Linked DNA regions of Homo sapiens: region 2 is linked to region 1. The links come from fine-mapping of genetic effects on gene expression. A gene starts in region 1. The other region holds a variant in brackets. All regions are shown on one strand. Distances are between the middles of the regions.

Region 1 (11,429 bases):
AGTCTCTTTCTCTCTTTAGGCTGTTTTCCTCTGTGTGTGGGCTTTGATGTCAAACAGCACTCTCCATGTGGCAGGGAGATGGCTTCTGACAGCTAAGCCTGTGTGCTTGTCTTCTGATCCAAAAGGAGAGGTGCTCCTCCCAGAGTCCCAGAGTGCCAGTCCCATGGTCTACATAGTCCCAAATCTCAGAGTCCATATGTCAAATCATGTAGAAGGGGTGACTGGCTACTTAGGTCACTTACCACTGCCTGGACCAATCACTGGGCCTTGAACTTGCAATGGTATGTATGACCCAGTTGGTTGCCTGTCTGCTCCTGGGGAGTAATTGTGAGGGGAACAAATTGGATAGCCCCGTCAGGACCACATGGAACACAGGAGGGAAGGTTTCCTTCAACAGAGGGCCGAGACATGCAAAAACTGTAAGCATGTTCAGCTCATCATGCCAGGGAAACTGCATTTTGTCTTACAAGCAATGTGGAGCCCCTGGAAGACTTTGGCAGGGCTCAGTCTGGAAGCTGGTTTGATTTGTCACAACCATTTTAAAAGGAGGAAACTGAGGCAGAGAGAACAACAGACAAATCCAATGACTGCTACAGCCAGAAACCACGGATAAACTCTGTCTGAGAGGGAGACATGTTCTCCTCCCCTCAAAGATGGGGACTGATGGGAGAGAAGCAACCTCTGTTCTTAGTGAACACGTAGTTCTATTGATGATCTGAGCTACAACCTCTGTTCCCAGTGAATACAGAATTCCATTGATGATTTACTGATGAACTCCCTAGAGTTCTATAGGGAGTCCCAGAGAGAGAGATATGCCATACCTTCCTTTCTTCCTTCCTCTTTTCTTTCATTAATATATCCACATATCTAACATTAATTGAGCACCTACTGTGTGTCAGGCTTTGTGCCTGGCAGGAGGTAGAGTGATTAATAATGATGATGCAAAACATTTATTGAGGTTTTTTTTTGGTTTGTTTTTGTTTTGTTTTTTTGAGACAGAGTCTCACTCTGTTGCCCAGGCTGGAGTGCAGTAGCATGATCTCGGCTCACTTTAACCTCCACCTCCCGGGTTCAAGCAATTCTCCTGCCTCAGCCTCCCAAGTAGCTGGGATTACAGGTGCCCACCACTGCACCTGGCTAATTTTTGTATTTTGTTTTGTTTTTGAGACGGAGTCTCACTCTGTTGCCAGACTGGAGTGCGGTGGCACGATCTTGGATCACTCCAACCTCCGACTCCCTGGTTCAAGCTATTCTCCTGCCTCAGCCACCCGAGTAGCTGGGATTACAGGCATGCACCACCACGCCCAGCTAATTTTTGTATTTTTAGTAGAGACTGGGTTTCACCATGTTGGCCAGGATAGTCTCGATCTGCTGAACTCGTGATCTGCCCGCCTCAGCCTCCCAAAGTACTGGGATAACAGGCATGAGTCACCGTGCCCGGCCTAATTTTAGTATTTTTAATAGAGATGGGGTTTCATCATGTTAGCCAGGCTGGTTTCCAACTCCTGATCTCAGGTGATCTGCCTGCCTCAGCTTCCCAAAGTGCTGGGATTACAGGCGTGAGCCACCACGCCCGGCCTTTATTGAGATCTTTCAAAGTTTCAGGTAGTAGGCTAAGTGCTTTATATGTGCATCATCTCTTTTAATCCTTACAGCAATCCAATGAGGTAGGTACAATTATTATCCCCATTTTGCAGAAGAGGAAAGATAAAGATGAACACAAAATGAGCCCTGTTCTCAAGGAGCTCACAGTCTAAAGCAGGGATCCCTAACCCCCTGGCCACTAACTGGTTCCTAACCGGTGACCTGTTAAGAACCTGGCCACACAGCAGGAGGTCAGCTGCGGGTGAGCAAGTATTACCACCCGAGCTCCGCCTCCTGTCAGATCAGTGGCGACATTAGATTCTCATAGGAGCACAAACCCTATTGTGAACTGCGCATGTGAGGGATCTAGGTTGCGTGCTCCTTATTTTTTATTTATTTATTTATTTTTGAGACTGGAGTCTCACTCTGTTGCCCAGGCTGGAGTGCAGTGGTGCAATCTCGGCTCACTGCAACCTCTGCCTCCTGGGTTCAAGGAATTCTCCTGCCTCAGCCTCCCAGGTAGCTGGGACTAAAGGCACCCACTACAACGCCCAGCTAATTTTTGTATTTTTACTAGAGGCGGGATTTCACCATGTTGGCCAGGTTGGTCTCAAACTCCTGACCTCAAATGATTCACCCACCTCAGCCTCCCAGAGTGCTGGGATTACAAGGTGTGAGCCACCATGCCCCGCCTGTTGCGTGGTCCTTATGATAATGTAACTAATGCCTGATGATATGAGGTAGAACAGTTTCATCCCAAAACCATTTGCCCACCACCACCTTGGTCTGTGGAAAAAACTGTCTTCCATGAAACCAGACCCTGGTGCCAAAAAGGTTGAGGACTCCTGGTCTATAATAAAATCTACAGACTGAAAAACAAGTAACAAAAACAGATGGAGCTAAGAGCTTCAGGAACACAGAGGTGGGAGTCAGGTGAGCGCAGGAGTGTTGTCAGGGAAAGCATCTCACAAACTTGATGTGTGAAATTAACTAGGAAGGATTAGAAGTGAGCCAGGCAAGAGTGAGCCACCTGCAAAGGTGAAGAGGGAAGAAAGAGGAAATCAGGTGTGAGTAGAGAACAGGAGTTGGAGGTAGGGGCTGGGCAAGCAGGTAGGGGCCAGGCTGCCAGGTATCCTGTGCAGACAAGGACTCTATACACAGAAAGTGATGCAGCTCTGAGAAGGCCTCAGGCTACTGAGCAGGTATCACTAGAGCCTCATGCAAATCACACTTCCACCTTTTCACTAACTGAATTGCAAGCACCAGAAGGCCTCCTGTTGATCTGGGGTCTCTGCAGTGCCCTCTGAGTGTATGAGCAGGAGAGGTTTCTCAGCTCCTCCTTCCCTTGGGTGGTGGTGGTGGATGGGGGAGGGTGGTATTTTCCAGAGTTGAGTCTGTTCCCAGACCTTAGCCCTGCCCACTTGCTGATGTAAGAAATGCAGCCAACCCCTGAAATGTGAAGTCCTTCCAAGTAGCTTGATCTGGGCTGAGGATGGGAGAAAGAAGGGTCTGGCCTCCCAGCACAGCATTGCCCTCCCTGCCTCATCCTGGAGCAATGACCACTCTCTCAGTTTCCTCCTGCATTCCCCGCTCCAGTGTGAAACCTCAATTCAGGTCTCACCCATCAAAGTGAGTTCTCCCCAAATTACCTGCTCCCCATCCAGGTGAGATGAAGAGCACCCTGGCCTGGGAAATGGTGTAGGGTTCTAGTTCCACCTCTGCTACCAGTTTGCTGTGTGATTTTGGGCAAGTCATCCCTCTCTCTGGGTCTCAATTTCCCCATCGGTGAAATTAACTTTGAAAAATCAACAGTCCAATTTTGGAATGAATAACTTCAGTCTTTATTCACTGGGGGGTGGGGTGGGTTGGGGCAGGGAACGGCATGCCCAGCATGCAACACAAGGCGTGGGTGGAGTGGATTCACAGTCTTTTTGGAGAAGAGCAGGCAGGAAGCAGGTTGGCTGTGCAGTGTGGCCTGAGAATGAGCTCAGAACAGGAAGAGGGGAAGAGGAACTGGGCTGGCCAGAAGGCTTCTTTCTGGAAGAGGCAGGACTGGAGCAGGGATTTTGAAGCGTGGGTACAGGTTGGAAAAAAAAGCAAACATAAGCGAAGAGTGGAGTCCGGAGGTTAAAAGTCTCTGGATAACTTTTCCAAGCGGGTGGAATGGGAGTAGGGTGAGGAAAGGGTGCTTTGTCTCAGAACCAGTCCTTTAGTTCCTGACTCTGTGTGGATGAGAGGCTCCTCCAGAGGTCGCTGTTCCCCAGGAATCCATTACTAGCGTCCGCACCGCGAGGCCAGAGCTCCCACTGTTCCCCTGGCTTTGCTTCTATGAGGCTTACGCGGCTCTGCATCTGCCCAGAGGACTCAGGGACGCGGCAATATTTCCGCCCCCACGAGGGTACTTACGGCCTCGCCAGTTACCCTGTCTGGGACTCAGAAGGGTTACACGTGAAGGTGAGCGCATGTGCATGTCTATGGTACACACAGGTCGCTATGGCTCTGCACCCTCCCTCCTGCGCTGCCCCAATTCAGGGCCCGGAAGGGCGTCCTGTTCCCGAGGTGCCACTGTGCCAGCAGGCGGCGTGTAATTGGTAGGAGGGAGGCTGCCGCTGGAGTATTCTTGGCTGTCCCTCAGTGCGATCCCTGCATGAACTCCTTTTCCATGCTACAGTCACAGACCCTCAACCCAGGCGCACCCTCACCCATCCTCATTCCCCACTAGGGTCTCGCTGTTGACCCCGAGCAGGTTTGTCGTCCCCGACCAGGTCGCAAGGCTTCAGACTCTGGGGGGAAGTCGCGGGCCTGGATGATAAGCCTTCCAGGCAGTCCTGGGTCCACTCTGTGGACACCAAGCATGAGGTCTGGAGGGGAGGACACAGGACACAGGATGCAAGACAGGCGCCCGTCACTCAGGGTCGCAATCCGCCATACAGAGCCACTGTTGTCCAGAGGACAGACACATGAGGACAGAGAAAGAGAGGCTCGGCCCAGCTGGCCGAGAAACCCACAAGAGCGCACTTAGACATGAAGTTCTCCTTCCCACATACCTGGAAGCGTCCCCCACTGCCCCTGGCCGCCTCTGCTCTCAAGAGCGTGGAGCCTTCCCTACCACTCCGGGAACTCTGTGATCTTCAGGACCGGCGGGTTTCAAGTGGCGCTGTTTTCGGTCTCTCCTGAGGTCGCAACCCTCTTCCCACGAACAACAGCCCACAGGCTCCGCAGCTCGCCTTGGTCTCAACAACCGCGCAGTACTTGGGTGCTTAAGCGAGTCCCCTACCACATAGTCCAGGGTTGGGGGCGGGGGAGATGGGGCTGGGAGGGGACAGTGGCCAGGAGTAGCGGAAAGAGAAGATGTAAATTCACTCTCGAACTTTGCCCGGCAGACGCGTGGTGGTTATCTCCGCGCCAGCGCCTGAAGTGGGCAGGTGGGCTTCAGAGTTGAAGGTGCACACACTGGAGCCCCAGTCATTTCTGTGCATGGGGAACATGTCTGAGGTCTGCCTCCGCGGGTCACAGGATCTGGAGTCTCCCGCCTCCCACCTGGGCTAAGGGAGCTGATCGCTTCTGAGCAGCCGAAGATCCGGGTGGAGAAAGGGGCCGGGAGCTGTACCGGCTGAGGCTAGACAGCTATCTCGCTTTGGAGCTGCAGCTAGGTCCAGAGTGGGAAGGAGGCTCGCGCCGGCTTTGCCGCTTTCCCTGAGGGTGTCCAGTTTTGTGAATAAAATTAGAGAAATCTGCGGGCGTAGTTCCCCAAGCCCAGCTCAGGCTTCCGTTTGCAGCCCGGCGCTGGCCGAGCTCGAACCGCTGAAAAGGGCCGCGTGCAATCGTTCCGCTGTGCCTCAGGACAAACTCCGCTTCAAGCCAGTGCCGCTCTCCGGCAGTTTCCTGATTGACTTAATTAGATCCGCATAATCGCTGGAGGGCTTTTCTTTCCCAGAGCCGAGAACAGCTCATTTATGGGGACCAAAAGGAAGAGAGGGAGAGACGACCCGGACGCCACTGATAGCAACGTACTCTTCGCAAAAAACACTCAGTAACTAGTGGAAAAGCCCAACAGGCATCCCCCTCCGCCCGCCAACGCTTCCTCCCAATTGTTCTGGGCTGCACGAGGGAGATGGCCGGGCCGTGGAACAGATGCAGAAGGAGGCCCGGCACGACCAGAGACGCTGTAACCAAGACCCGCAGAGCCTGTGGCTTCCCGCTCTTTGGCGGCTGCAGCAGGCATGGTGCTGGAGCCCAAGGCTTCTGGGAAAGAGTCCAGGTTTTCGCGGAGGGAGCGACGGACTCACGCGGGATCGCAGGCACTGCTGCAAGACGCCGAACAGGCTGAGCCGGTAGGCGAAAGAAGTAAGGGTCACAGAAGAAGCAAAGAAAACGAAATAAATTCCGAATCCCGCGGTGGCCCTTCTCCCAGTCCCCAGTGCACTTACTCCTGACACTGTTGAAAACAAACTGGCCCAGAACCTTGGAAGGGAGGAGAGGCTACTAGAAATCCCTCTATACAGAGAGGAGCTCGGTTAGAGAAACAGCTATTTGGATAAACAGAGGGGTTCTGGGCTAGGAACCCGGACACGTAGGTCCAACCCAGCTTAGCGCCCCTCAAAAGCCTGACAAGTAACATGATCTCCTGGACCTCAGTTTCCGCTCCTGTAAAAAGTATGTATGTGAAGGGTCTGGATTCTCCCTCCCCAACCCTGCAGAGCAGAAGCTGGGGATTCTGTACTCCCCTTCCCCAGTGTAGGTCTCAGTAGCAGTGAACGTGCAGCAAGGCCAGGCAGAGGCAAGGGCTGGCTGCTGTAGCTGCTTGGTAGAACTTCTCTGAAGCAGGAAATTTGGGCAGCAAGTGCCCTGGCTAGTCTCACCCTGACCAAAGCCTGGGGAGCCAGGGGAGTGCTGGCAAGGAAGGAAGCTACTGGTTCCCATTTGCTGTTTTAGAAACGAGGACATTCAGGCCGGGCAGGGTGGCTCACGCCTGTAGTCCCAGCACTTTGGGAGGCCGAGGCGGGTGGATCACCTGAGGTAGGGAGTTTGAGACCAGCCTGACCAACATGGAGAAACCTCCTCTCTACTAAAAACACAAAATTAGCCGGGCATGTTGGTGCCTGCCTGTAATCCCAGCTATTTGGGAGGCTGAGGCAGGAGAATCATTTGAACCTGGGAGGCTGAGGTTGTGGTGAGCTGCTGAGATCAGGCCATTTTACTCCAGCAGGGGGGCAACAAGAGCGAAACTCAGTCAAAAAAAAAAAAAAAAAAAAAAAAGAAAAGAAAAAAAAGAAATGAGGACATTCAGAAGGTGAAATGGAGTAGGATGACGCCAACACTGTTTTTCTCTCCACTTGTTTAGATACTAGCAGAGTTGAGCTGGGTTGGAGTTGGTGTGTGGTCCATGGTGTGGGGTATCTGTGAGTGGGGTTCTGGGAGTGTGAGACAGATATCCATGTAGTCAAGAGCAAGCTTGAGGTATGTGTAGGGTTGCCAGATAAAATAAATCTGCTAAATCTAGCAACCCTAGGTATGTGAGTTTCCTTGGACTCATGCAAGAAGCTTCTCTCCAAGACCTTTTTCCCCGGACAGTCTGTCACCCAGGAAATTCCAATTCCAGGGCTACTAGTCCCTGTCCAATTTGCTGTCCATGGTTTGAGGACGAGATTTCTCTTTTTTCCAATGACAGTTTATGCTGGAACAGCACATTAAATGGATCCCCTTGGTCAGAGGTCCCAGAGGGGGCCCAGGCGACTTCCTCTCAAAGGACATGAGTAGTCAGACCTGCCTTCCATTTTTTTCTGCCCTTACCTTGGGGGGATGAAGAACTCTATTTTGAGGATTCTGTGAAAAGGGTTGCAACCCAACTCTGTTCTATTTCTTTGCAGGAGCCTGGGTGAGTTCTTTCTCCCTATCCTGGGCCTCTGTAGCTCCATCTGTGGAATGGGAGAGTTGGATTAACACCAGGCTATCCCGTAGATTGGAGGCTGCTGTTAGATGAAACTGCAAAGTGTTCTCAGTACCCTTTCCTAAATGGCCTAGAATATGGCTACACTTATACATCAGTTCTGAGGTAGGTGTTACTAGCCTCATTTTTACAAAGGCAGAAACAAAGCGCAAAGAACCTTGCCCAAGGTGACAGATAGGGTAAGTAGTGAAGGCAGGATTGGAACCCCAGGAGCCTGACTTAAGGTCGCTGCTCTTAACTACTATGCAGACCAGGAAACTGAGGCTCCGAAGCGGGGAAGTCACCTAATGAGGGTCACACAGCCTTGCTACAGCGGAGGCAGCTGGGATTCCGGCCTCGCACGCCCGAGCTTTAGCCACTGTGCGGCGCTGTCGGGGCAGCAGCCCAGGCATCCGCTCAGTTCCTGCTCACGTCCAGCGCCCATCTCCCCTTCCGTGCCCCAGAGGCTGAAATGGGCCCAATCTGTGTTGAAGCTGCTTGTTTCTGGGTCCTGGAGGGAGGCCGGGGGAGAAAGAGGTCTAATAGGATGGGCAGGAACCCGGCTAGCGAGAAACAAGGCACAGGGCCAACCTTAGTTGCACAAGACTTTTGAGAGATGAAGGCAACACTTGGTGGAGGTCAGGGTTCACTGAGGGGGTGTCGGGCAGGGGGCGGAGGAGGTCCTGCCGCCTGTCGGTGGGGCCCAGAACCCTGGGAGCCAGGAAGGTGGGGGGTGTCCAGTCCTCAGGGCAACTGGGGCCAGGGAGAGGGGAGGGAGAAATTAAGCGGATTCCCAGACCCATGAACAGACATCCAGACAAATGCCGTTTCCACAGAGACTCACGGAGAGTGAGATAGTCACAGAGACTGAGACAAACGGATGCCGAGATCCAGAGGGTCGGAGAACAGGCAAACTCGGAGCAGTAGACCGGCCCGCGCCCCGGGAACGCGGCCACAGCGGCCGGCGCTCTGCCCGGCCTCTCCGCGCGGAGAGGGGTGGCGGGCCCGACAGCGGAGGGAGGAGAGGGCGCCGCCGCAATCTCACCTCTCCCAGGCCCAAGGCTGCGGGCGCCAAGTTCGCTCCTGGTGATCACTCGAATGCGTCTCCCCTCGGGCTGGAAGCCGTGCGGGCTCGGGTGGGCGCCGGCGGGCCGCGCTGGGGCGGCGTGGGTCCCGGCGTCTCAGCCTCGCGCTCCCACTGCGCTTCGGCCCGGTGGCCCGGGCGCCGCCTTGGGGAGAGGACGGGTGGGGACCGCCGCCACTTCCCTGGCTGCGGCTGGCGCCCGAGTGAGCCTTAACATCCAGGGGCTGAGCGTTCTGAAGGCGGCGGCTTCAGGGAGCACAGGGTGCAGGAGCGGCGGCGAAGACAAGGGCCCGCCTCCGGCCACTCGAGCCCAGCTCCCGCCGCGGCGGCGGTTTGTTCCCGCCGGGTCCCTCAGCGGAGGCGCTACGCCCGCCCCTGTCGCCTCGCCCCACCCCGCCCAGGGAGCTCCGCCCTAGCCCGCAGCTCTTCCGCCTTAGGCAGCCGCTAGGCGGGAGGGACAATCCCCCACCACCAACCACTGCCACCCCGAGGGGACTAGGGGCTGAGGCCCGCCCAGGTAAGGGAAAGCCTCAGCTCCTTCCGTTGCGCCCCAGCGGCGGGTCCCAGCTCGGATTCCCGGGGTAGTGGCGGGGGCCGCCGGCGGGTCGTGCCCTGGAAGGTGAGCGCGGCCGAGCTGGGCCGCCAGGGGGCGCTGCGGAGCCGGGGGACACCCCTCCCTGCCTGCCTCAGTCCCCCGCCCCCTCCCCGCCCGCGCGCAAAACGCACTCGCCCCAGAGGCAGCGCGGCCGAGCCCGAGCCGCTGCCGGAGCGGAGCCGGAGAGTGGCGGCGGCGGCGGCAGCGGCACCATGACCCTGGGCAGCTGCTGCTGCGAGATCATGTCCTCCGAGAGCTCCCCGGCCGCGCTGTCCGAGGCCGACGCAGACATAGACGTGGTGGGCGGCGGCAGCGGCGGGGGGGAGCTCCCAGCTCGCTCCGGGCCCCGCGCCCCCCGGGACGTGCTCCCCCACGGCCACGAGCCTCCCGCGGAGGAAGCCGAGGCAGACTTAGCCGAGGACGAGGAGGAGTCTGGTGGCTGCTCGGACGGCGAGCCCCGCGCTCTGGCGTCCCGGGGGGCGGCGGCCGCAGCGGGGAGCCCGGGGCCAGGCGCCGCGGCGGCCCGCGGCGCAGCGGGGCCCGGGCCGGGACCGCCGTCGGGGGGCGCGGCGACGCGGAGCCCGCTGGTGAAGCCGCCCTACTCGTACATCGCGCTCATCACCATGGCCATCCTGCAGAGCCCCAAGAAGCGGCTGACGTTGAGCGAGATCTGCGAGTTCATCAGCGGCCGCTTCCCCTACTACCGGGAGAAGTTCCCCGCCTGGCAGAACAGCATCCGCCACAACCTCTCTCTCAACGACTGCTTCGTCAAGATCCCCCGCGAGCCGGGCAACCCGGGCAAGGGCAACTACTGGACGCTGGACCCGGAGTCGGCCGACATGTTCGACAACGGCAGCTTCCTGCGGCGTCGCAAGCGCTTCAAGCGGCAGCCCCTGCCGCCGCCGCACCCACACCCGCACCCTCACCCGGAGCTGCTGCTGCGTGGCGGGGCCGCGGCGGCGGGGGATCCCGGCGCTTTCCTGCCCGGCTTCGCTGCCTACGGCGCCTACGGCTACGGCTACGGGCTGGCTCTCCCGGCCTACGGCGCACCCCCGCCGGGGCCGGCCCCGCATCCGCACCCGCACCCGCACGCCTTCGCTTTCGCCGCGGCAGCCGCCGCCGCTCCTTGCCAGCTGTCGGTACCCCCAGGCCGCGCCGCCGCGCCTCCACCCGGACCTCCGACGGCCTCGGTGTTCGCAGGCGCGGGATCGGCCCCAGCTCCTGCGCCTGCCTCAGGCTCGGGCCCGGGCCCGGGCCCCGCAGGCCTGCCCGCCTTCCTGGGCGCGGAGCTGGGCTGCGCCAAAGCCTTCTACGCGGCGTCCCTGAGTCCTCCCGCAGCCGGCACCGCGGCGGGTCTGCCCACCGCACTTCTGCGCCAGGGCCTCAAGACGGACGCGGGCGGTGGTGCAGGCGGCGGGGGCGCCGGGGCAGGGCAGAGGCCTTCCTTCTCTATAGACCACATCATGGGCCACGGTGGCGGCGGGGCAGCACCCCCGGGCGCCGGCGAGGGCTCTCCGGGACCGCCATTCGCGGCAGCCGCGGGTCCTGGGGGCCAAGCCCAGGTCTTGGCCATGCTGACTGCTCCGGCCCTGGCTCCCGTTGCTGGCCACATTCGCCTCTCGCATCCCGGGGACGCGCTGCTGTCCTCAGGGTCCCGGTTTGCCAGCAAAGTCGCCGGCCTTAGTGGCTGCCACTTCTGACCGCAGCAGGCCCAGGGCCGGTTAGGTCCGCACTCCTCAGCCTCTCCCGGGAGTTCCTGCGGTCCCAGCGGAACTCAGGGAGTCTATTTATGAAGTCTCCAGACCTTGGGCCGGCACGCGTGACACGGCACTTCAGGCTCCACGCACAGAATCTCGCAGATAGTTGGGACTAAGCGGGCTCTATCGCTCAGGGCGACAGGCCCGGGGCTACGCGAAGAAGTCGCAGGCCAAGATTCTTTACAGTTTGAGAAATAAAAGCAGGGGGGTGGGGGCTTCGTTTTTTTCCCTGCCTCTGCGCCTCTCGGGGAACACATTCCGGGAGAGATGCCTGGCCAGGCTCCACGGATCCCGCCAGAAACACCAACAGAGGGTCTCCCTTTCTGCCTTTCCCCTCTCACTTCTTCCCCAACGTTGAGACCCTGCTTGTCCAATATTATAATTTAAAGACATCTATTATCTGCTTTGTGCTTAAAAGAAAAATTCAACCTTTTTTTTTTTTTTTTTTTTTTTGCTGTTCTCCAAGGAAGTTCGTTTCCT
Region 2 (11,429 bases), 22 kb after region 1:
GGTCCCTGTAGCTCTTGCGCCGCAGCAGGGATGCCCTATTCCACCCCCAAACTGGTAGCTGCTTTATTCCTCTCCCCGTAGCCCTTTGGGGGCAGTTCTGGGACACCTGGTTGGAGAGAAGCCTGCCGTGGCTGGGCACACCCTGCACCTCTGGGAGGAGGAGTTCACAACCTCAAGGAGGAGGTGGCTGAGTTGTGGGGAGGGAACTGATTTTATGGAGGCTGGGGCATCTTGGGGGCCAGGACTGTGAGTACTTTTCTGTTGTCTGTGCTCCTGACCCCAGAGCCCGGCCTTGCCACCCCCACACCCTCTCCACATATGTAGGCGGCTTTATTTTTGCACCACTCCATCTTCCTGGGCCTACTCTCCCTCTCTGTAAAATGAAATGAACTTATCACCAGACTGCCCTCATCTGCTGGAATGTCCTTGTCAGTCTCAATTCATTTCACCATTCTTTTATTACTCACTTTGTGCCTGGTCCTCTCCTCTGCACTGGGGATACAGTGGTGAACAAAACCGATGTGGTTCCTGTCCTCAGGATGGTGACAATCTAGTGGAGGACAGAAAGAAACACAAATGCATGTGGAATTAAAGCTGTAATATGGGCGCAGAGGGAAGAATGCCGACGGCCTTGAGAGAGAATAGCTGAAGGATGTCATGGGGTGGGGATTCCTCCCCAGCTCTGGAGCCTGCTGTGGGGAGAACTCATCACCCCATACTTGATCCTGTTTGACTCCGATTTCAGTCAACAGACCTCTGGCCGCTGGACTTGCTGGTCATGGCAGCTATAGGGAGCCAGGAGCCCCTCCCAGTGTGTCATCATCCATCACAGATTTCCATTTGAGCAGCCCTCCTCCAATGTCACCAGAAGGGATTCACCCTTCATTCCAGCACCCAGAGCAACTTCCTCTCCCCAGGTCCTTGGATTTGGAAGAGGCAGTCTGCCCCTCAAGAACACGATGTGGAAGTCAGGCTGGCTTTGGGATATGAGATGGCTTCAGTTCTGAGATCTCTCTCTCTCTCCCCCTCTCTTTCTTTTTCACTGAAGGCCACAGTCACACTGAGATCTCTATCCAGCATGCTGTCTGGTGCAATAAATAGTCATTGATTAAAAGAATAATTCTAGGAGACTACTCTTTAATGAGCCCAACAGCCAGAGTGATTCTGTGGTTCATGGGTCTGATTATCTGATTGTTCCTTCTTCCACTTTCTACCTGGTTCACTCCCTACTCAGGGTCACCTCCCCCACCAAGCCTTCACTAGCATCTCCCCACTCCCACAGAATTTTTTTTTTTTCTTTTTTTGGAGACCGGGTCTTGCTGTGTCACCCAGGCTAGAGTGCAGTGGCATGATTATGGCTCACTACAGCCTTGATTTCTCGGGCTCAAGCGGTCCTCCCATCTCAGCCTCCTGAGTAGCCAGGACTACAGGCTAGCCACCACGCATGGCTAATTATTTATTTGTAGAAATGGGGGTCTCCTTATGTTGCCCAAGATGGTTTCAAACACCTGGGCTCAAGCAATCCTCACACATCAGCCTCCCAATCCTAAGACTTTTCATACTTTTAAAGAACTTACTGTGATGTATTATTTTCTGCTTGCTGTTCCCCCTCCCTCATCTTTTCCAGTACACAGCACAAGGCCTGGAACATGAAAGAATGAATCAACTGCATGTGTAGAAGGGCCCCAAAAATGTGTTGCATTGCCCAAAGACAAGTGGAGTTAATGTGATTCAGAAATATGTCCCTTCATAGAGCAATAATGATCTCTGGTGCCTGGTGTGGTGGGGAAGGGGGAGTGGGGGAACAGTGTCCAGGACAGCAGTGGCTGGGGGCCCCTGAGCCCCAGTGTTGCAAGATAACCCAAAGGGAGAGAGGCAGCCTGTACTCAAGCTCAGGGCACCTCCGTTCTCAAGACAAAAGGAGCTTGGACTGGAGGAGTCATACCTTGAGGGAGGGGGCTAGAGAGCTGTCTCCCCACCATCCCTGCACTCCCATGGTGCAGCAGCTGTCCAGGGAGCAGGCCCCAGCTCTCTAGAGCTGCACAGAGAAGATGAGTGCTCCCAGCCCAAGGACAGAGGCTCCAAGTGCTTGTTGGGGATAGGGCAGAGGCGGGAGAAGAAGGGAGGGGTTGAGCAGAGGGAGTGGCTTTCAAGGGTGTGGGACAAAGAGGCTGACTCTGCCTGGGACCCCTGAGGAGGTATCATTCTCCAGGGTTGGAGAGGACCCATGTTTCTTTTAACCCCTTCATGACTTCTGGCCTTGTCTGGCTACCAAAACTACAAAGACTTGGAGGATGATATACATTGGTTGAAAATCCAGCTTGGGTGGAGGTAGTTTTAGAGAAGGGAGATTGAGGCCCTAATGTGGGAAAACACTAGTACTTCCCCAGCCCCACTTGTATCATACATTCTCCTTAAACACACATAATCTGTGGGGACCTGGGCCAGGCCGTTGGGGGATAGAGCTGAATCAAACCATTTTCTGACTACCCTCTTGCCTCCCATGCAACATTTACTGATCCTACTATGGCTGGGTATCCCTGGAAGAGGCCCACTGTGGGTGTGGGGTGTAGGTTTGGGGACAGGAAGGGAATTTATGCAACTTTCTTCCCTGGGAAAGCTCATAGTCTGAAGTTAATAGCTCTTGGTGCTTCAATTCAGGGGCGATACATTTTGTGAGTGGAGAACAGGCACAGGAGACTTCCTGGAGGAAGTGGCATTTGAATTGGGCCTTGAAAGTTGGGGAGAATTTGGACCATAGAAGGTTGGGTGTGAGGGGAAGACATCTAGGGCATTTCATCCTTTATGAGCGAGGGCATTTGGGAGAGCTGAGTGAGTTCAAAGTTAATTTAAGCTGAGAGGTCTTCCCTGTACTCTTCCTGTAGTCACATAATAGAATCCCTCTGCATTATAAATGGTCCTCAAGTTCTCAGTTGTTGAACAAATAAAGGTTATTTTTCACTCATCTCGTAGTCTAAATATTGGATCACTGGTGGTGGTAGTGAGATGGGGGGAAGCTTTGTTCTACATAGTCACTCAGAGACCAAATGGCCTTCCATCTAGGGGTTCCATCATTCTGTAGGGGAAGCGCTCTTATTATTATTATTATTTTTTGTACCATGGACCCCCTTAGGTAGATTAATGATCAGCTTATGGATACCTAAAAATAAATATTTTTTAATGCATGAAATCAAATTTACAGGACTATGAAATAAGCCAATTATATTGAGATTAAATTATCAAAATCGTTTAAAACTTTTGTGATGGCCAGGCGTGATGGCTCATGCCTATAATCCGAGTACTTTGGGAGGCTGAGGCGGGCAGATCGCCTGAGGTCAGGAGTTCGAGGCCAGCCTGGCCAATATGATGAAACCCTGTCCCTACTAAAAATACAAAAATTAGCCAGGTATGGTGGCATGCACCTGTAATTCCAGCTATTCGGGAGGCTGAGACAGGAGAATTGCTTGAACCTGGGAGGTGGAGGTTTCAGTGAGCTGAGATTGCACCATTGCACTCCAGCCTGGACAACAAGAGTGAAACTCTGTCTCAAAAAAAAAAAAAATTGGTGCAGGTGGCAAGTGTCACTTCTGACCACATTCCTTGGCCAGAACCCAGTCATTTGGCTCCACCTAACTGTAAGGTAGAGTAAGAATTGAAGTCTTGCTGTATGTGCAGGAGGAAAGGGAAATGGGGTTTGATGACTGCACAACGTTGACTGCCATGTAGAGTCTCCTTGAGTCTTCTGTTCCATTCAGTGTTTTTTTTTATTGTTGTTGTTTTTGTTTTGTTTTTTTCTGAGATGGAGTCTTGCTCTGTCACCCAAGTGGGAGTGCAGTGGCGCGATCTCAGCTCACTGGAACCTTCATCTTCCGAGTTCAAGCAATCCTCATGCCTCAGCCTCCTGAGTAGCTGAGGTCACAGGTGCATGTCACCACACCTGGCAAATTTTTGTATTTTTAGTAGAGACAGGGTTTTGCCATGTTGGCCAGGCTGGTCTTGAACTCCTGACCTTAGGTAATCTACCTGCCTTGGCCTCCCAAAGTGCTGAGATTACCGGTGTGAGCCACTGCGCCTGGCCCCATTCAGTGTTTTAAAGATCCAGATAGGCCGGGCATGGTGGCTCACACCTGTAATCCCAGCACTTTGGGAGGCCAAGGTGGGTGGATCACAGTGTCAGGAGTTTGAGGCCAGCCTGGCCAATATAGTGAAACCCCGTCTCTACTAAAAATACAAAAATTAGCCGGGTGTGGTGGCACACTCCTGTAGTCCCAGCTACTTAGGAGGCTGAGGCCGGAGAATCGCTTGAACCCAGGAGGCGGAGGTTGCAGTGAGCCAAGACCACGCCACTACACTCCAGCCTGGGTGACAGAGTGAGACTCCGTCTCAAGAAAAAAAAAAAAAAAGATTAAAAAAAAGATCCAGGTGAGAGACTGATTAGCTTTGTTGACAAACACAGAGGACATCATGATGTCTTGAAAAGGAGAGAGGAAGACAGAGATATTTCAAGTCTAGTAAGTCCAGTTCAAGTGGCACACAGATGTCTGGGCTCTGATTTGTGCTGAGTGGCTCCTAGAGCCAAGAGCCAAGTACACCTCTCCCCTCTCTGGCTCCTACACACCCCATGTACTACCCTATGAAGAGAGGTTACTCAGAACAGCCTTCCCAGCAGGCTGTGGGATCCCCAGATGGAGACCTGCTCCATAGACAACGCTTTTCCATCTCCACCTCATTCTCGTCACCAGATTCCATTAGAAATGATCCTCTTTGAGAATGGTAGCACATGGGTGCATGAAAGAGGTTCACATGAGTGTGTGTGGAAGGTAGAGGAATCAAGTCACATTTGCCATAGCTTTAATCTGGGTAAAGTCACCTGAATTCCCTGATCATAACCAGGACTTAAACAGTACCTGACACATAATAGGTGCTCATTAAATAAATGTTGCATTGAACATCTGAATGAATGATGATCTTTCCCTGGATATCTCTTTCCCTCTTGTTGCCTCTGTCCTCATTCCTCTGTCTATCCATCTGTCCTTCAGAGAGTCTGTCAGTAATCTTTTTTTTTTTTTTGAGACGGAGTCTGGCTCTGTCCCCCAGGCTGGAGTGCAGTGGCGCAATCTCGGCTCACTGTAAGCTCCGCCTCCTGGGTTCATGCCATTCTTCTGCCTCAGGCTCCCAAGTAGCTGGGACTACAGGCACCCACCACCATGTCTAGCTAATTTTTTGTATTTTTTTTAGTAGAGACTGGGTTTCACCATGTTAGCCAGGATGGTCTCGATCTCCTGACCTCATCATCCACCTGCCTTGGCCTCCCAAAGTGCTGGGATTATAGGTGTGATCCATCGCGCCTGGCCAGTCTGTCAATAATCTTTACCTCTCAGCCAACTCAAATCCTTTGTGGAGTACAACATTACGGAAAACAGCATGGAGGTTCCTCAAAAAATTAAAAATCCAGCTATCATATGATACAGCAATCCTACTACTGGGTATACATCCAAAGGAAATGAAATCAATATGCTGAAGAGATATCTGCATCCCCATGTTTATTGCAGCATTATTCACAATAGTCAAGATATGGAATCAATCTAAGTGTCCAACAATGAATGAATGGATAAAGAAAATATGGTATTGGCTGGGCACGGTGGCTCATGCCTGCAATCCCAGCACTTTCGGAGGCCGAGGCAGGCAGATCACCTGAGGTCAGGGATTCGAGATCAGCCTGGCCAACATGGTGAAACCCTTCTCTACTAAAAATACAAAAGTAGCCAGGCATGGTGGCGTGCACCTGTAGTCCAAACTACTTGGGAGACTGAGGCACGAGAATCATTTGAACCTGGGAGGTGGAGGTTGCAGTGAGCCAAGATCACACCACTGCACTCCAGCCTAGGCAACAGAGTAAGACTGTCTCAAAACACACACACACACACACACACACACACGTACACAGAAAATATGGTATAAATACAGAATGGAATACTATTCAGTCATGAAAAAGAGTGAAATCCTGTCATTTGCGACAACATGGATGAATCTGGAGAATACTATGTTAAGGGAAATAAGCTGGACACAGAAAGACAAATACTCAAATACTGCCTGATCACATTTATA[T/A]CTGGAATGAACTTATTTGTGGAATTAGGCAGGACACATAAGCATACATGAGTATTAATAATAATAGAATCTCCATGTTGATGGAGAGCTACTCACTGTCATTTCCACCCTGTGACTTGTGACTTCTCCCCTCCTGGGTGGCAATCTTTTTTTTCTTGAGACAGGGTCTGTCTTACTCTGTCACCCAGGCTAGAGTGTAGTGGTGCATTCATAGCTCACTGCAGCCTCAACCTCCTCAGGTTCAGGTGATCCTACCACCTCAGCCTCCCGGGTAGCTGAGATCACAGGTATGTACTACCACACCCAGCTAATTTTTGTATTTTTTTGTAGAGATGGGGATTCACCATGTTGCCCAGGCTGGTCTTGAACTCCTGGGCTCATGCAATTGACCCACGTTGGCCCCCAAAGTGCTGGGATTACAGGCATGAGCCACTGCACACGGCCCCTCCTGGCAATCTTGATTAACAAGGAGATTCACAGAAATTGCTAGAAAGCATTTCTACCCTTATTGCCTTATTGAGTCCTCACAGTGCCTTGAGATGGGCACTTGTAGCCACTATTTTCCAGATGAGACTTGGTGAAGTTCTGTGGCTGCTGTGGGTTTGCACCATAAATAGCATCAGAACTTGAACTTCTGAATCCATGGGTCCAGGTGCTCCCCAATCCCCACTCAGAGGTTTGCTTTTTATTCTCTACCCTTGGCTTCCTGCTTGTCCTGGGGAGCCCAGTCAGATCCTTTTGCAGGTCTTCTGGGAGGTATGCTCACTCCTCTCCTGCTCTGCTGCTGTAGGCCCCTGGGATGGTTCCTGTCCCGAACTGCTGAGAGGGTCACAGGGCAGGACCTGCCTTTTTTTTTTTTTGTGACGGAGTCTCGCTGTGTCCCCCAGGTTGGAGTGCAGTGGCGCCATCTCGGCTCACTGCAAGCTCCGCCTCCCAGGTTCACGCCATTCTCCTGCCTCAGCCTCCCGAGTAGCTGGGACTACAGGCGTCTGCCAACATGCCCGGCTAATTTTTTGTATTTTTAGTAGAAATGGGGTTTCACCGTGTTAGCCAAGATGGTCTCGATCTCCTGACCTCGTGATCCGCCCGTCTCGGCCTCCCAAAGTGCTAGGATTACAGGCGTGAGCCACCGCGCCCGGCTGGACCTGCCTTTTATCAGTGGCCTGCTAAAGCTGCAGCAGAGATCCCTCTGCCCTGAGTCCTTTCATCGATGGCTCTTGCAGTGAGAAACAGTTACTGTCGTTTATCTCTGAGCGTAGCTCTGAATCTGCCTTGGGCTTGAGTCTTCCCATCCATCCTATTCAGACATTCTTTTCCCCTCCTTTGCTATTCCTGCTCTTTCTTTCCCCATTTATCTTTCTAGCCTATCTCTGTGCCTAGTCTGAATCTCCTTGTCTTGCACAGTCCCAAACCTCCATAGGAAAGCGGATGTGCAGGGCTTCTTCAGCTGGGGCTCACTCTGTTGCCTGCACCCCATGGAGCCTCCTAGGCACCATTTCCAAAGCACCTCACAGAGCAGGGGATCCAGGAGGGTCCCAGAGGGGCTGGAAACCTGCATCCTCCTCAGACTGTCAGCTGGTCAACTCTGGGCCATTTTTTTTTTTTTTTTTAAGACTGACATGGAGTCTTGCTCTGTTGCCTGGGCTGGAGTGCAGTGGTGCGATCTCGGCTCACTGCAACCTCTGCCTCCTGGGTTCAAGCGATTCTCCTGCCTCAGCCTCCCGAGTAGCTGGGATTACAGGCATCTGCCACCACGCCCAGCTAATATTTGTATTTTTAGTAAAGATGGGGTTTCACCATTTTGGCCAGGCCTGACTTGAACTCCTGATCTCAGGTGATCCGCCCACCTCGGCCTCCCAAAGTGCTGGGGATTACAGCCTCTGGGCCCAGCCTCTGGGCCATCTTCACAGTGACTGCACATGTTCCTGAACTTGTTCTCTCCTGGGTGGATGGACCCCAGTTTCTTCCTCTGCCCACATGGCCCTTACCCCCTCTCATTCTCCTTCCTTATCCTCTGCTTTCTCTCTTCTTTCTGACCCCCCATTGCTATATATGGGGTGGGGGTGTGTGGCTGGAATCTGGTTTAGGGATGTGTTTGCTCTTGGATAGTTATGCAGAGGGCAGTTTTACTCCGCAGAGACTCCCTGGGGAGAGGACCATCAACAAATTGCTGGATCTGCTTTGTGCAAACAGACACACAGAGGCATGTATTGGTGTTTGAGCACATGTACACCACAATCCCCGACCCCCATCCCACAACACGTACAGGCCCTGGCAAATAGATAAGGAGTCAGGGGTTTAGGTAGGTATACCAGGATGGAAGCCACATACAAATGCAATGCATCCAAGTGAAAGCTACATTTAGCACAAGGAAATGAAAAAATATATGTAGTGTTTATCTGGTTACCCTAATGCAGAGTTGAGCGTGTGGGTAATTTTCTGATAGATAATTATGCGGGAAGAGTATACTTCCTGGGACTCTGTTTGGGATGGGCATTACTAGCAATCACTCACTCGTGAATACTGCTCTACACAGAGTATCTACGGCCATTATCTCTGTAGTGTCTCACGTGCTGACGACAAGAGGGGTGTGAACTAGGTGAGTCTGGGAGTCTGTGATACATAGCATGTGTGTTGGTGGCTGTGTCCTCAATAGCAAATTGGGATTGTTGCGTGATGGTGATGGTGTGTGTGAAGATGTCTGTGTGTGATGGTGCATTTGGCATGTGTGCACATGTGTGCATGCCTGGAGCCAGCAGAAGTGTGCAAGCCTTCAGGAGCAGTAGAGAGGCAGCTAGCCTGGCTCTTGGGAGAGACACTCATGTATGAAGAGCTCAGCGCTCGAAAGCGGCTGTTTAACAACTTGAGCATCAAATTATAGCCCACGTGGGCAGAGGTGTCAGCGGTTGCTGGTTGCTGTAAATACTTCAGTGCAATTGACAACAGCTTGTGGAGGGCTAAGTGAGATGGGGAGGGTATAGAGGGAGGGGTAGCGCCTCCTGCAGGGACCCTCTGCCCTATAGTCCTGTCTCTGCTGGATCTAGTGCTGCTGGGGAGGGGGTATGCGATGGGGAGCAGGGAGTCTGTAACAGGGTGGGCTTCAGAGCCAGACGGGTTCTAAATAACCCATCATTTACAGGGGGTAACCTTCGGCAAATGACTTTTCTACTCTGTGCCTCAGTTTCTCGATGTGAAACAACAACAACATTAATCATAATACCCTGTGAGACTTTTGTGAGGAATAACCAGAACTTCTTTCACCTGAAAGCACTTGTTGTGGTTATGCAGACATTAGCTTTTATTGCCTTGTGCAGGATAATGCATGGGAATTAACACAGCACCTCTCACATAGGAAGCCCTCAATAAATGTTAGGTAACGTTGTTAGCCTATTGCTATTGCTATTGTCCTCATAAGCCTGGACCCATAGCTGGAGATACCACAGCCCTTCCAAATATGCATGGAAAAAAGGCTTCCCAGAGGGCAGCCAGTGGGTTTTTGTGGATTTTCAGAGAAAACGTTTTTAGTCTCCAATCTTTCAGAGAATCCTGCTGGACAGGATCTGAGACTGAGAGAGTGTGCCCGGGGAGCTCTTGCTGTAGATCCGCCTGCCTTCATTAGTACTTTGGCTGCGTTCTGAAAAAGTCATGAGAAATGGATGTTTGCAAACTCAATCCCATTTAAAATGCACTGGCAGGGCTGAGGGCTTAAAGGCACCCTGTGGTGAATTCTTTTGTAAAGCAAAGAATCTCCTGAATGTATCCATTTTTTAAAGTACTGATATTTATAAAGTAGTAATAGTCAGGATTTCTTGAGTGCTTATTGTGTGCCGAATATTCAACATCTATTACTTAATTATAGCCTCATAACAAGCCTATGGGGGGCAATATTTTAACTTTCCAGAAGAAATAGATGCACAGAGAGTAGCACACACCTCCACAGCATCACACAGCTAGAGTGTGATGGAGCTGGGATGGGAACCTGTCCAGCTCATATGAAAGCTCATCTCTTTCTGCTGTGCTCCCTCACTTTGTCATGCCCTCTTCCCCTCTCACCTCACCCCCACCTTCTCTTTTCTGCAACCACACAAGAATCTTTATTTTGCATATACCACAAAGAGGGTAGTTTCAAGTCTGGTATAATCAAGAGTCACCTAAATCACAAACAAAAGCTTCAACAGTTTTTAAAAAGTAGGAGCAGTATCTCTGAATTTTTGAGGCCACTTTTTAGAAATTTATTTCTTGACCAGGTGCCCTGGCTCAAGCCTGTACTCCTAGAACTTTGGGAGGCTGAGACAGGAGGATCATTTGAGCCCAGGAGTGGGAGACCAGCCTGGGCAACATAGTGAGACCTCCTCTCTACAAAAATAAAATAAGTTAACTGGGCATGGTGGTGCACACCTATAGTCTCAGCTACTTGGAAGGCTGAAGTGGGAGGATTGCTTGAGCTCAGGAGTTCAAAGATGGAGTGAGCTGTGATCATACTACGCAGTCCAGCCTGGGCGACAGAATGAACGTTTGTTTCCTAGGAACATTTTCAAACCTATGTAGAAGTAGAAAGAGCAGTACAATGAGCCCCGTGTATACCCACCACTTAGATGCAACAGTTATCAAGATTTTGCTTCATCTGTCTTCTACCTTTTTAGAGATCCCGTTTTAATTTCGTAAGATAGGGATAGCTGCATCATTTGCACTGGTATTATGATCATCCAGTGAACTGTATCCATGGAGGTGTTTGTTTTTCTGCAGAAGAACTTGTTATATTATATACTGTAAGCAGATGTCTTTTCTTTTTCTACCTTTCTCCGGTAAGTTATTGCAAGACCCTTCTAGGTCTGGCTAGGTTATGCTAACTCCCTCATGCACCACATTCAGTGTTCCTAATCAGACCCACATGAGGAAGGAGTTTCCTATCAAGCAGAGGTGACCAAGTTCTCCAGTGGCCCCAATCCCTATGGTTTGAGTCATTTAATTGTCACTAGAGTAGTTACTTTCTTTTGTAAAGATGCAGTGAATCTTTCTGCTCCTCCTCAAGTTAATAATGTTGATAATAGTTACTACTAATAATTGTGATCCTCTGCAGCTTTCCATTCTCCACAAGGATCTCTTTCTTAATGCACTAGTGAGTGGTCCTGCTTCTATTCCAATGATTAGCTTTTGGATGTTGAATTCACTCATGTAAAGTCCTGCCTGTAGTGATGGTTCCTTGGACAGGTGTGTGCCTGGAAGCAGCAGGAGGGAGTTCTTCCATCTTAGAGTAAGCTGTGACTTTCAGGTACTTTCTACTCCTTCATGACATCTGAGACAATGGTTTCAGGTCTGTT

Evidence for each region.
Region 2: its variant is fine-mapped to the expression of FOXD2-AS1 in blood mononuclear cells (TOPMed, PIP above 0.99).

The regions. Positions count from the first base shown.
Region 1 is chr1:47,428,732-47,440,160 of GRCh38, forward strand. It overlaps FOXD2-AS1 (FOXD2 adjacent opposite strand RNA 1), which reads right to left and starts at 5,910. Exons shown (of 1, transcript NR_026878.1): 1 at 3,402-5,910. FOXD2 (forkhead box D2) reads left to right here and starts at 9,313. Exons shown (of 1, transcript NM_004474.4): 1 at 9,313-11,429. The coding sequence starts at 9,405. The coding sequence ends at 10,892. It overlaps LINC01389 (long intergenic non-protein coding RNA 1389), which reads right to left and starts at 8,586. Exons shown (of 5, transcript NR_126355.1): 1 at 8,559-8,586. RefSeq lists silencers at 2,884-2,993, 7,793-7,952, 8,433-9,332, 9,363-9,542 and enhancers at 5,395-5,910, 10,731-11,429.
Region 2 is chr1:47,450,484-47,461,912 of GRCh38, forward strand. No RefSeq gene overlaps it. Among named protein-coding and RNA genes, the nearest start is that of FOXD2, 18 kb to the left of the region's middle. The variant T/A (reference allele first, on the strand shown) is at 6,109.